Linked DNA regions of Homo sapiens: region 1 is linked to region 2. A link means that fine-mapping ties the variant in region 2 to the expression of a gene that starts in the linked region. Tissue or cell type: whole blood. Region 2 holds a variant in brackets; the other region holds the start of a gene. All regions are shown on one strand. Distances are between the middles of the regions.

The links. PIP is the estimated chance that this variant, and not a neighbour inherited with it, causes the effect.
Region 1: RPL29 starts here. The variant in region 2 is fine-mapped to the expression of RPL29 in whole blood (TOPMed, PIP above 0.99).

Annotation. Positions count from the first base shown.
Region 1 is chr3:51,994,338-51,997,021 of GRCh38, forward strand. It overlaps RPL29 (ribosomal protein L29), which reads right to left and starts at 1,558. Exons shown (of 4, transcript NM_000992.3): 1 at 1,520-1,558; 2 at 1,088-1,132; 3 at 705-769. The coding sequence starts at 1,124. RefSeq lists an enhancer at 1,503-1,662.
Region 2 is chr3:51,918,768-51,921,451 of GRCh38, forward strand. No RefSeq gene overlaps it. Among named protein-coding and RNA genes, the nearest start is that of IQCF1, 17 kb to the left of the region's middle. The variant C/T (reference allele first, on the strand shown) is at 1,205.

The DNA of each region.
Region 1 (2,684 bases), 76 kb after region 2:
TCAAGAACAAAATTACAAGCTGCTTTGCTGCCCTGTCTGCCAAGGTTGTGGGGCTTCAACTTCCTACAGCAGGGGTTCGACCAAGTTTTTTCCTGACATCCCCTCAGGGACACCCCCTCCCCTCTTTAGAAGAAGGTGTCAATTAAATACCAAGTCTGGTCCAAAAGACTTATAGCCAAGGTGGGATATGGGGAAACTGAGGCTCAGAGTTTGTGATTCACTCCACGGAACAGAGAGCAAAAGTAAAGGGAAGGAACAGACTGGGGACATGCTCAGCTCTCCCCTAGACCCTCCAGCCTTCTCAGCTAATCCTTAGAACCCCCTGACACAGGAAGAGAAGCTGACCCCAACTCCAGCACTGGGTCAGATGGAGGTCATAAGGCTGGTCAGTGTGGGAATGTGCCCTGCACGCACTCAGACAAGGCCACTCCTTACCCTAAGTGCCACTGCCAAGCAAGGGAGATAGCCAAACTGCCCTCAGGAGGCAGGTTACACCCTGACCAGAGGGTTACACTTCAGGCTGTGGAGACCAAGGAAAGCTTTATTATGGGTCTGGTAGGGTAGAAAAAGGAATTGCAGGCTTTGGGTGGGCCAGTTAGGCTGTGCTCAGGCAGAAGCCAAAGCTAGAGAAAAACTACATGAGAGGCCTTGACTGTGCACCTGGAACCAAGAAAAGACACTTCCATGTGATTCAGTGCACTCACCCCCTTAAGAGATTCGTATCTTTGTGATCGGGGTTTCTTGATACCATTTCTGTGCCATTTTCGGGCTGTGGGAGAAAAAAAGGGAATTAAGCCAACAAAGAACTTTCCTCTAATAAGACCACCCAACATCACAGCTGGCAAGTCTGGGAGAACCAACACTTCCTACAGCAGCTACACTTGAGATATGGGAAACCCTTACTACTAAATGCAAAACACTCTGTATCTCAAGTAGATCTCTAAACCTATAAACCCTAAAGTTATTACTGGGTGAAATCAATCAGCCTCAGGCCCACAATGGAAACGTGCCCCTTCATCTCTGTCCCAGTTTGCCTGAACCAGTCCTTGCCAGGGTCTGGGATGTAGGCAGGGCCCAAAAAACTTACACTGGTTGTGTGTGGTGTGGTTCTTGGACTTGGCCATGTCTGCACCTGGAAGACAAAAGTGGAGATCAGGGTTAAGGGCTCGCCAGGCTGGGCCACCTCTGCCCCCCCCATTCTGGTCAGAATGAGCCTGCAGGCAGAGAATGTGCAGCCTCCACGAGTCTCGGCTTACTCTGCACGACCAAACGCCAGTCCTGGCCTCCCAAACCCAGGTAATGATGCCCTGAAATCAACTCCTTACCCCCGGAAAGCTGCATTCCCCAATAAAGTGGCTTTCCCTGCCATCCCCCTCCTAGGACCTAGAAGCACCATTCCCACCCCGCAGCTTTTGCTCCCGACAGACACACGGTCGGTCACCAGTCCTCTCCGCAGCCCGCGCCCCGCCGCCACCCGTAAGTCGCGGATGGCATCGGATGCCGCGCGGCCAACACTCACCATAAGCCGCGGCTCCCGAAGCGCCTAGAACCGGAAGAGAAAGGGGCTGCGGTGCAGCACGGGAAATAGGGTCAACAACGCCGGAAAGTACTACTGGAAAAGCTTCCCCAGGCTCCGCGAAGAAAAGTTCCGAAGCCCGGAAGAACGCAAGCCAGACGTGGAGGCGGTGCTACGAGCTTGCCTCCGCCCCCTTCAGGCTGCCTCCTCCCTTCTCTGTTTCTCCAGGACCTGTCTCTTAAGTCTTATTCAAGATACTGAAAAAGAAAGGAGTCCTTGAGGGATGTTGTTGGGCAAGAAGATCTGTGTTCTTTTTCTTTTTTTTTTTTTTTGAGACGGAGTTTCGCTCTTCCACCGAGGCTGGAGGGCAGTGGCACAATCTCGGCCCACTGCAACCTCCGCCTTCCGGTTTCAAGCGATTCTCTTGCCTCAGCCTCCCGAGTAGCTGGGATTACAGGCGCCCACCACCACGCCCGGCTAATTTTTACATTTTTAGTAGAGACGGGGTTTCACCATGTTGGCCAGGCTGGTCTCGAACTCCTGACCTCGCGATCCGCTCGCCTCTGTCCCCCAAAGTGCTGGGATTACAGGCGTGAGCCACCGCACCTGGCCGATCTGTGTTCTTAAAAGCACCCCTGTAATCCCAGCACTTTGGGAGGCTGAGGTGGGCGGATCACGAGGTCAGGAGTTCCAGACCAGCCTGGACAACATGGTGAAACCCCATCTCTACTAAAAATCCAAAAAAAAAAAAAAAAAAAAAAAAAAAATTCACGGGGCGTGGTGGCACGTGCCTGTAATCCCAGCTACTCTGGAGGCTGAGGCAGGAGAATTGCTTGAATCTGGGAGGTGGAGGTTGCAGTGAGCCAAGATCGCACCATTGCACTCCAGCCTGGGCTACAGGGCGAGACTCTGTCTCAAAAAAAAAAAAGAAAAGCACGCCTGACTCTTTCGTGGAGAAGGAGCAGAGGGGAGGAAGGAGAGAGGGCTGCCTGGACCTGAGGGAGGACAGTGGGAATGCAGAGGAGTGGACAAAGAAAGAGTACTGGACTTGGGACACAGAAGATGAGGGAGAAAAAGGAGGCAAGGATAGCCCCTATGTCTTTGGCTTGACAACTGGGTGAATGGTGGGCTGTTTACAGAGATGGAAGATTGAGTGGGGAGCAGGGGC
Region 2 (2,684 bases):
CTAAATATGCCAATTAAAAGGAGGTATTAACAGATTGGCTTTTTTTAAAAAGACAAACTGTGTGCTCTCTATAATAAATCTATTTAAAATGTAATTATATAGGTATGTTAAAAGTAAAACAAGTACTTAATGTACAATGAAAATAGTTAAAATTGTAAATTTTATGTGTATAAAAAAATTTAAGTAAAAGGATGGGACTTCCATTTCCAGCCAAGATGGAGTAACAGTAACTGGATTTACTCTCCCACCTGAAACAACCAAAAACTAGACAAAATCTAGAAAACAATGATTTTTAAGATTCTAGAAACCAGGCAATGAAGGACAGTAATCCCCAAGAGAAAGGAAACAAATGAGAGTTTACTGCCTGGAGAGTTTCCAAGCAACCGCACAGGAAGGGGGAGCCAAAGAAGATATCTCAATGGTAAACAAGCCTATGTACAGATACTCAAAATCCTTAGTAATTAGGGAAATGCAGACTAGGACGATAAACTATTATGGCCCACATATTAAAATGCCTATAATTTCAAAGACTTATGCCAAGTGCCAGTAAGGATGTAGAGCAACTTGAACTCTTTAGATGAGAACAAACTCGTATAGACTGCTTATGAGAATGAAAAATGGTACAACTGTGCAAAAAAGTTTGACAGTTCTTAAAACATTTTACATATACCTACCACGTAACTCTCCTATTCCAGTCCTAAGTATTTACCCAAGAGAAATGGGAGCACATGTGTACATAAAGACTTGTACACTAATGTTCATAGCAACTTTATTTGTAATAGCCAAAACCTTAAAACAACACAAATGTGAACGCATAAACAAAATGTAGCACACCTATTCAATGGGACACTATTCCACAATAAAAAGGAATAAACTATTGATACATGCAGTAACAGGAATTAATCTCAAAATAAATTTTGTTTGCACGTATACAGATGAGGCCGGGTGCGGTGGCTCACGCCTGTAATCCCAGCACTTTGGGAGGCCAAGGCGGGCGGATCACGAGGTCAGGAGATCAAGACCAGACCATCCTGGCCAACATGGTGAAACCACGTCTCTACTAAAAATACAAAACAAATTAGCCAGGTATTGTGGCGTACGCCTGTAGTACCAGCTACTGGGGAGGCTGAGGCAGGAGAATCGCTTGAACCCGTGAGGCAGAGGTTGCAGTTAGCTGAGATCGCGCCACTGCACTCTAGCCTGG[C/T]GACAGAGCAAGACTCCGTCTCCAAAAAAAAAAAAAGGATACAGATGAAAAGAGTATATCCTAAAACATTTATCATTTCTTTTTTTTTTGAGATGGAGTCTCCCCCTCTCGGCTCACTGCAAGCTCCGCCTCCAGGATTCAAGCCATTCTCCTGCCTCAGCCTCTCGAGCAGCTGGGACTACAGGCACCCGCCACTACGCCCGGCTAATTTTTTGTATTTTTAGTAGAGATGGGGTTTCACCGTGTTAGCCAGGATGGTCTCAACCTTGTGATCCGCCTGCCTCGGCCTCCCAAAGTGCTGGGATTACAGGCGTGAGCCACTGCGCCCGGCCAACATTTATCATTTCTTCGTGTTGAGAACATTTCAAATCTTCTAGCTATTTTGAAACATACAATAAATTCTTTTTTTTTTTTTTTTGAGACAGAATCTCACTCTGTCACCCAGGCTGGAGTGGAGTGGCTTAATCTTGGCTCACTGCAACCTCCGTCTCCTGGGTTCAAGCAATTCTTGTGCCTCAGCCTCTCGAGTAGTAGCTGGGACTACAGGCTCGCGCCATCACGCCTGGCTAATTTTTGTACTTTTAGCAGAGAAAGGGTTTCCCCATGTTGGCCATGTTGGTCTCGAACTCCTGACCTCAGGTGATCTGCCCACCTCGGCCTCCCAAAGTGCTGGGATTACAGGTGTGAGCCACAGCACCCAGCCACATGCAATAAATTCTTAACTATAGCCACCCTATTATGCTAACACTTTAACTTATTCCTCCTAGCTAACTGCATTTTTGCACCCATTAACCAACCATTCTTCATTCTTCCTCATCCCCGACCCTTTCCAGCCTCTGGTAACCATCATTCTACTCACTCCCTCCATGAGATCAATTTTTTTAGCTCCCACATATGAGTGAGAAAATGTAATATTTGCCTTTCTGTGCCTGGCTTATTTCACTTAACATGTCCTCCAGTTCCATCCAGGTTGTTCCCAAATGTCTGAAGTGATGGATATCCCAATTACCTTGACTTGATCATTACCCATTCTATGCATGTATTAAAATATTATATGTACCCCATAAACATGTACAACTTTTATATATCAGTAAAAAATATATATATACTATATAATTTCATTTATATAAAATTCTAGAAAAATGTAAACTAGTCTAAAATGTCAGAGAGCAGATCAGTGATTTCCTGAAGATGGAGGCGGGGCTTCAGGAGGGGTGAGAGGAAGGGATAACAGAGGAACATGAGGAAACGTTTAGGAGTGATGGATTCTAAACACAGCCCAGGCTGCACGCAGTGGCTCAAACCTGTAATCTTAATGCTTCGGGAGGCCGGGGCAGGTGGATCACTTGAGCCCAGGAGTCCAAGACTAGCTGGGCAACGTGGTGAGACCCTATCTCCATACAAAACAACACAAAAATTAGCCAGGCATGGTAGTGCGCGCCCACGGTTCCAGCTACTCAGGAGAAAGGAGAATCACCTG